3 separate regions of the Homo sapiens genome follow, and regions 2 and 3 are each linked to region 1. The links come from fine-mapping of genetic effects on gene expression. A gene starts in region 1. Each other region holds a variant in brackets. All regions are shown on one strand. Distances are between the middles of the regions. Region 1 holds the start of LRATD2 (LRAT domain containing 2). Region 2 has its middle 170 kb from the start of LRATD2. Region 3 has its middle 56 kb from the start of LRATD2.

Region 1 (2,766 bases):
TAAGCCTAACTCTTGTCTATAATATGGTGATCATATGATGGCAACAAATATCACTCAGGTAACAGCAGCCCCCCACACCATTTGCTATCAAAAGGACTGGGGTGTGTTGGATTCATTCAGTCACATGCGCCTGAGGCCAGCCAGTCTGAAATTATTGAAACAGAATCGCACAGCACACAGTAGTCTCATGTTGATCTAACTTATACTTCAGACTTGCTGAAGGACTAATTTCTATCACAGCCCTGCCAATATTGATTGTTTGGACTCAAAATTACATAAGTAGAATGATTTTTATTTTTTTCTCCTAAACTAGAAAGGATCACAGTAGTGCTAGTATATTCCTGTTTCCACTGGCTGGTTATACATGCTGGAAAAAATTAGTCAAAAGAAAGCAACTGAAGACAGAATATAGGTCTTGAATCGCATTCTTAAGTCCCCTACGAATAAGTCTGGGTGCTTGCAGTAGTGCCTAAACTTGTTTATTGTAAACAGAGCTGTTAATCCTCCACCCTCACCGGACCCATTATTTTAAAAAAATAAACAACAACAACAACAAAAAAAACACTTTGGTAGCCTACATTTAGGTAAAAGAAACGAAACCAGTGGAGAGGTGGAAGTGTCCTTTTGTGGTGGAGGTTAGTAGGCATTACTGGTCTCCTGTCACTTCCCTAAGTCAACAGGAAGGAAATATATCCACTAGGGCCTCTGCTAATTTGTTTCTAATTTAAGGACAATTAGAATTAGGATGTAGGAATTAGGCAATTCCTACATCCCCTAACCCCCCACCCCCCCAAAAAAAAGCAGTCAGAGCTGCACGCTTCTCTCACTATCCAACGAACTGGTACCTCTCTGGAAATAACGGAGGTTATGAACTTTGTACTAACTTCCAGGGGTATCTAATAAACAGAGCGGTGGTCTTGGGACCCAGTCAGTGAATAAGTCTTCGTTCTGTTTTATACTGTTTCTTTTCTGCGATTTTCTTTTCTACCCCAAAGTTTCCCACTACTAACTCTGAAAACACCTCTAGGATGACGCACTCTTCGAGCTGTCCTGGTGAAGAATCCTTTCTTGTGACCTTTAGGGCAAGAAATATGTTCCAGGAAAGAAAAGAAACGACTGTTCCTCCTTCTCCAGGTACTCTGGGAAAAAACAGGTCAAAGGGAAAAGGCGCAAACACCAAACTCTCCTTCCCTTTCTCATTTCCACACTGGCAAGTTGTGTTTGCCTTCTAACTTGTCTCGGAAGGCAAGCAGAGCTCACAGCACCAGCCCCAGGCGGCGGGTGGATTATTTACAGGGGGATTTAAACCCGCTCCGGCGCGGGGGCGTGGCCGGGCGGAGTCCCGAGGCCCGAGTGGGCGGGGCGGGGGCGGGGCTCCCGGCCGCTCGGCGCAATGTGAAAAAGACCCGAGCTCGGGGAGTGAGCGCCTGTCTCTTTAAATGCCACGGGCTGCGCTCCCGCCCGGGAGCCCGGAGCCGGATCTACAATCCCGTCCCTCCAGCTCCGGTGCTTGTTGCTCGCCCGGCCCAAGCGGGAGCTGTTGCCGCCAGGCTGCGAGGCTGCCGTCCTCTCCTCCTCGCGCCCCACCTCCCCCGAGAGCTGGCTGAGGAGGGGCAGCAGCCCCAGCTGGCGGGAGGAAGCGCGGTGTGAACAGGGATTGCCCCCCGCCTTCAAGTATCGGGGCGCTACGCAGCCGCGGGGGAAAGACATGCCCCTAGTCTGCCCGCTGCGCTGCCCTCTGCCCAGCCTCGCTGCCGCCCGCGCCGGGAGAGGAGGGACTGCCGAGCCTACACCTTCAAACTCGCCCTAGAAGTCTCGGGGCGCGGCAGGGAGCCCTTCCCCAGGCCCCACGGCCTTCACCTCTCCGCGGGTGAGTTTGTGCAGGTAACCCGAGCCTGAGGGCGGGCGCGGGGGAAGGGCGGGCGAGCCGGGAGGAGGTAGCGCTGCAGGTGAGCCAGGTAGGGTGACTCACCTGTCCAGGTCGCGCTCTGAGATCCTCGCTTGTTCCTCTGGGGATGGATGCGTTGGTGGGGAGGAGGCGTCCCCGGGGCTAGTTAGGGCCCGAGGGTGGGAGGGGAAGTTAGCAGAGGAGGGGGGGGATTGGCGTAAAGTTTCTCTTTCCTTCCCTCTTCCTGCCCAAGCTTGGCAGGTAGGGCGCAGGCGGAAGCAGTAGAAGCTGCTGATGCAATGGGCTTTTGCCAGGGCCAGGCGAAGGGCTGGGGACAGGGAGAACAGGAGTTGCCCAGTCTCCTGTGACCGTGACCTTACAGGTGGAGAAACGAGGGAAAGCTCGCTACACCCGAGACTTCCCCCTAAAATGGCTCCAGGTGCTGAGCCCCCACCGATTCTTTTTCGGAACAAAACGCCCTTTTCACGGAGGGGCTCCTGCATGGCTTTCTTGCCTTCCTCTCCCAACAGGTAGCCTCAGCCCCTGTCCGGGGACCTGTGCAAATGACCCTGGAGTTGGTTTCGCTTTCTCCCCTTGCGGCGGTGTGAACGTGTGTCCGCAGCGTGATGGGCAACCAGGTGGAGAAATTGACCCACCTAAGTTACAAGGAAGTTCCCACGGCCGACCCGACTGGCGTGGACCGGGACGACGGGCCCCGCATTGGGGTCTCCTACATTTTCTCCAATGACGATGAGGACGTGGAGCCGCAGCCGCCGCCTCAGGGGCCAGATGGCGGCGGCTTGCCCGACGGTGGGGACGGGCCGCCGCCGCCCCAGCCGCAGCCCTACGATCCGCGGCTGCACGAGGTGGAATGCTCC
Region 2 (2,766 bases), 170 kb after region 1:
AGGCATGAGCCAAGTGTGCCTAGTCCTAATTTATCTGGTTCTTACCTGTTTTCTGAAACATTTAAGAGGAAGATGCACCTATAAATGACCCTTCAACTCTAAACCCTTCAGTATGCATCTCCTGAGAACAAAAACGTTCTTCTACACAATCAAAATAAGATGGTCACATTTGAACAGCAACACAATTCTATAATTTTATATATAGACAGTCCATATTTCAGATATCCGCAATTGTCCTTATAATGATTTGTGTAGTTGTTTCTACCATTGGACACATCATTTAGGATTCAATAAAAAGTTACAAAGTGAATCGGGTTGGCATGTCTGTTTAACCTCCTTTAATCTACAACAGTTTTCCTGCCTTTTTATTTTTCCTTTCACAAAACTGATGTCGATGATGAGTACAGGAAAATTGTTTTGGAGACTGCTCTTCGATTTGAGTTTGCCAGTCTTGACTGATCTGATCCAAGTTAAATGCTTTTTTTTTTTTTTTTGGCAAGAATAAATTTCGGATGATGTATATGTGTCAGTGTATCATAACAGGAGCAAATGATGTCTATTTGTCTCATTATGATCGACATTGCTTGATCACTGTGAATAATTTACTTCTCAGTTAATTCACAAACATTATATTTTAATGAGTAGTAAATTAGCTTCTGCAGACTTGATAACCACTGGGAGATACACCTGTGTATAGGGCGGTTGTGATTGAAGTCTGCAGCTCTAGCTAACTTTGTTGAAGCACAATACTCCATTGAACTCTCCCGATGTTTTCTCTGCATGGACTGAAGAGGCAGTATAGTTCACTGATCAACACAAAGTGTAAACCCTAGCGTCACACTGCCTGGATTTGAATCCCTGACTCACCGCTTACCAGCAAAGTGACTTTAAGCATGTTCATTGATCTCCATAAACAGTTCCTCCTCTACAAAATGAGTGTAATAATGATTGGCTACCTTATAGAGTTGTTATAAGAATTAAATAAAATAATAAATGTAAATTGCCAAGTATAGAACCTGAGACAGAGTTAGTGTTTAATAAATGTTGTTTTATTCTTATATGCCATGTTCCCTTTAAAAGCAAAGGAAACTAATGTAAATCACAGTACTCCAGAAACTTAGATTTATGGGTGCTCATAAATATCTCCCAGGTTTTATAAACGATCCATATTATTCCTACTTTCATACCCTAAATCAGAATTTCTCAAACTGTTAATGTAAACAAGAATCACTCTGGCAAGTGATTCTTTTCTTTTTCAGGACCTTATTAAAAGGCAGATTCTGATTCAGCAGTCCTCAAGCACAGCCTGAAATGCTCGCAAGTTCCCACCAGATGCCAATGTCACTGGGCCATGGACCACACTTCAAGTAGCAGTACCCTAAATTGCCGCCAGGAGGAAGCACCCTGC[C/G]AAGCTTCTCACCTCATACTCTGGGGTAGATGCTGTCCTGTCATAGTAATCTTCATAGGAATCTGCCTCTAGTTTCCTCTTATTTTGTGAATATATCCAGCAACCATTAACTAAAGACCACACCGATTAAACCACTAGGACAGCTAGAAGGAGACTTTACCCCAAATTTTACTTGAAGGTTTGTCACTTTATGTTTCTACAAGTATACCTATATTCAATACATACCCATAAAGGGTGAAGCAATGGAAACAATTTCGGATTCAGATTGCTCAGAGTTTAAATGCTGCCTCTTCCATTTTTCAGTTGGTTATCAAGGTCAAGTTGTTTAACCTCTTTCGACTTCAATGACCTCATCTAAGAATGGTGACAATGCTAACTTCATGAATCCTTTGTGTCAAATTATATCTACTATATCTATACCTACCTATATAGAGACAGCCTGAACCGAGAGAGAAAGAGAAACAGAGAGAAGTAGAGAACTGGCCTGATTAATATTTCCTGGCATATGGTAGTTGCTCAAGAATCGGTAGCTTGGGTGACTTCCATTACCATTATTTGTGAACCTGTCAGGGTGTATTTTTATTTTCATCAAGTAATTTTTAAGGGTCACAGGGTCACAGACCCACAGAGTCACATCATTTTAGAGCTGGAAGTAAGTGCTCAGCGTTTCTCGGGGACCCATCATGGCCTGAAGATAAATCTATATTCCTCTCTCTCTTGGGTTTTGCTAACGGTAGGACGTGGGTTCCAGGAAGATCGCATGCACTCATTTGCCTGCACACAGTCTTCAAATTAGATTAGCCACCTTCATTTCTTGTGGTCAAGATTCCAATTTGCTTCACACCCTGTAAGCACAGATTCGTGCTTAGCATTCATCTCCACACACACTCCAAATGAGGAAAAGTCTCCAGAGTCTCTGAACAGCAAAGTTGTTTTTACTTTCAATTCCCCGTGGGCTCCTGGGAACCTTCGATGAGCATTTCACGTCTGTATAATAAGGCAGGCAAACTGCCCCATTGTGGATGGAAAATGCCCTTATGAGGTGCTTACGTCATCTTTAGGTTAAAACCGGAGTTCGGTCCAGTATATATATATTCCCCTTAGGGAAGACGGCTGCATTAGCTGTACTTGACTGAGAAGGCAGAAAATGCCAAATTATGTGAGAGAATGGAATGGATTCCTTGAGTGCTTTGTGCTAATTGCTAGCTTTGGCGTGGAGAAATTTCTCTCCTTTCTAGATGCAGGGTGACTACAGGAGAGGTCATGGCTCTCTATGGATTCTGCTGTATCACGAGAACCTCAGACTCAGTTTCTCCACATTGCAGATGGAACCACAGAATGACCAAAATCAACAACTT
Region 3 (2,766 bases), 56 kb after region 1:
TGGCTATCCCCTCCTTGTGTCTTCACATCATCTTCCCTCTGGATGCGTCTGTGTCCAAATTTCCTCTACTTACAAGGACACCAGTCCCTGTAAGTATATATATTTACTAAGTATCTATATTTACCAGTCATTTTAAGTATACATATTAGATTAGGGCCCACCCATTAACCATTTTTGCTTGATTACCTCTGTAAAGACCCTATCTCCACATAAGGTTATATTAAGGTTACATTCTGAGATACTAGGTGGGGCACAGTTAGGGCTTCAATATATGAATTTGGTTGCAGGTGTTGGGGGGATACACTTCAACCAACAACCCCCAGCCAAACTGGTAGCCTGCTTGCAGTGGGTAGGAGGAGATGGGACTGGTTCTCACTGCTCTCAGCCCACCATTGTCCACCTGCATGAGCTGGGGCAGGTCCCTGCATCTTTGCAAGCCTCTGTGCCTATGCTTTAAAATGATCAGAAGTCACACCTGCTTCTCAGAGCAGTGATGACAAATAAACAGGATAACATTTGGAGACAGCCCTAGGACGACATCTGATACATTAGAGACTCTCAATAATTGTTCACATTCCTACTGTTGTCCATAATGAGAGAATATTCACAGATAAGAACCCATTCTACTCACTAAAAAAGAAACCAGAACAAAGCACACATACACACCTGCCCTTAGAAACTTCTGTTCAAATGAAACTTCATAAATAAAAACAAACAAAACCAAGAGGTAAAATAAAGAAAGTAGAGTGGTGACTCAAGTATGGGGCAACCCAGGCCCCCTCTGAATATTTACAGTCAGAGAGAACACTTGGCCATAATTTCTTTCATTGCTTCTCTAATTAAGCAGAGTGACTGCTTGGATATTTTGTTAAAAATAATAAAAACAACAACATTGTGTTGTTTTTCTTACAAAATGAATATGTTTACTATATTATGAAATGTAATAAAAAGTCATATTTATATCACATATTTGGGACTATCATGTCATATTTTCAATAAAAACCTGTTGCCTTTTTTTGTAAAAAGTTAAATCATTTAATAATTGCTATTTGATAACATCTTCATATTAACACATGTTGACAATGTACCCTGAACATCTTCTTATGTTAATACATATTCTTCTCTATATTTTTTAATAGCTACATAGATTTTTGTTGTATGAATAATGAATCATTATTTACTTAGCTGTTCATTACTGATGGACATTTATATTCTGCTTTTGAATTATTGTATTTTTATTAGAAACAAATGCATTGATGAGCATCCTTCATCTTTTGACATCTCCCTGTTCTTTCCACTGGAGGGTTATTAAACTTTAGATGTGTAGACCCAAACAGGGTAGCTGGGATGGTGGGAGATGAAAGGGAAAGGGACAACTTACTCGCAGAGCTCCATTCATAATAGTAAAGGGAGTTATGCAAGGGTTTATAGATACATCGGGAGAGATTCATTATGTCTATGCTTCAAATGAATCAGTTACCAAACTGTTCCTGAAAAAAACAACTGCTAGCAGGACATTCCCAAATAATGGGGAGAAAAAAACTTAGTCATTAGAATTCAGAATAAGCTGCAAATGAGTGATAGAGGACTCTGGAGAGAGTGCCTGATTGGAGGGAAATGCCCGAGGAAGGAAGCCTGAAGAGGGAAGAGCAGCCTTCCTCTGTGGTTTCACACCAAAGGGTATATTAGTCTGTTTTCACACTGCCATAAAGACCCACC[C/T]GAGACTAGGTAATTTATAAAGGAAAGGGGTTTAATTGACTCACAGTTTCCCATGGCTGGGGAGGCCTCAGGAAACTTACAATCATGGCAAAGGGGAAGAGGTACGACTTACATGGCAGCAGGTGAGAGAGAGAGGTGAGTGAAGGGGTAAGAGCCCCTTATAAACCCATCAGATCTCATGAGAACTCACTCACTGTCATGAGAATAGCATAGGGGAAACCACCCCCATGATCCAGTCCAGGTCTCTCCCTTGACACGTGGGGATTACAATTCAAGATGAGATTTGGGTGGGGACACAAAGCCAAACAATATCAAGGGGGCTCTTACCCAGAAAGTGCTGCATGAGACCCAAGATTGCCTTCAGTAAGGAACCACTTCACAATTGTTTGTGCTTTTGTCTTTATTGAGCTTTGAGGGCGGGGAGGCACGTGGCCAGGTTTTTGATCCTGGTGCTTCAGCTGATTTTGTTGTGGAAACTTAAGCAAGTCAATTATTGTTTCTGGGCTGAGCCTTCTAAATCTTTAAAATAAGGATACTGGGTAAGAAAATAAATAAGGTCCTTTTTAGATTCTTTATTTTTAAAAAGTCCAAGCCTTCTAAGAATTCACAGAGAAAAAAGTAACAATTTCATAAATCAGGAGTTACACAGAGGGTAGGAGAGGAAAAGTGCAGGATCCAGGGCTTCACCAAAGTTTATTAAGCATCCTCTCCCGCATTTATTATAATCCCATCACTCATGCTCTCTCTTCTGGGTCCTGTCAAATTACTATTCACATCAGCTGACTAATTTTGTCTGAAAAGGGAATGGAAAATCTCCATGTCATCTGATACACTTTTGCTTTGATGGATAAGGCAGAAGTTCCAAAGAGAGTGTTAGGCAGGAAAATCCGGCTCCTTCAAACTAATTACTGCATATCTGATTTATTTCCCTCCTTAATGCTGTTTATTTTGTTTTTATTCAAAATATAAAATTGCTCCCTGAGTTGGGAGATTAATGGCTTTCTTCTCCTTCAGCAACAGATCATTTGTGGGCCCCGGTTATAAACA

What was found.
Region 2: its variant is fine-mapped to the expression of LRATD2 in whole blood (TOPMed, PIP above 0.99).
Region 3: its variant is fine-mapped to the expression of LRATD2 in whole blood (TOPMed, PIP 0.92).

The regions. Positions count from the first base shown.
Region 1 is chr8:126,557,138-126,559,903 of GRCh38, reverse strand. It overlaps LRATD2 (LRAT domain containing 2), which reads left to right and starts at 1,426. Exons shown (of 2, transcript NM_174911.5): 1 at 1,426-1,870; 2 at 2,419-2,766. The coding sequence starts at 2,515. It overlaps LOC105375751 (a long non-coding RNA gene), which reads right to left and starts at 2,028. Exons shown (of 6, transcript NR_188069.1): 1 at 1,973-2,028. RefSeq lists a silencer at 1,294-1,473 and an enhancer at 1,188-2,024.
Region 2 is chr8:126,382,493-126,385,258 of GRCh38, reverse strand. No RefSeq gene overlaps it. Among named protein-coding and RNA genes, the nearest start is that of LRATD2, 170 kb to the left of the region's middle. The variant C/G (reference allele first, on the strand shown) is at 1,409.
Region 3 is chr8:126,501,127-126,503,892 of GRCh38, reverse strand. No RefSeq gene overlaps it. Among named protein-coding and RNA genes, the nearest start is that of LRATD2, 56 kb to the left of the region's middle. The variant C/T (reference allele first, on the strand shown) is at 1,720.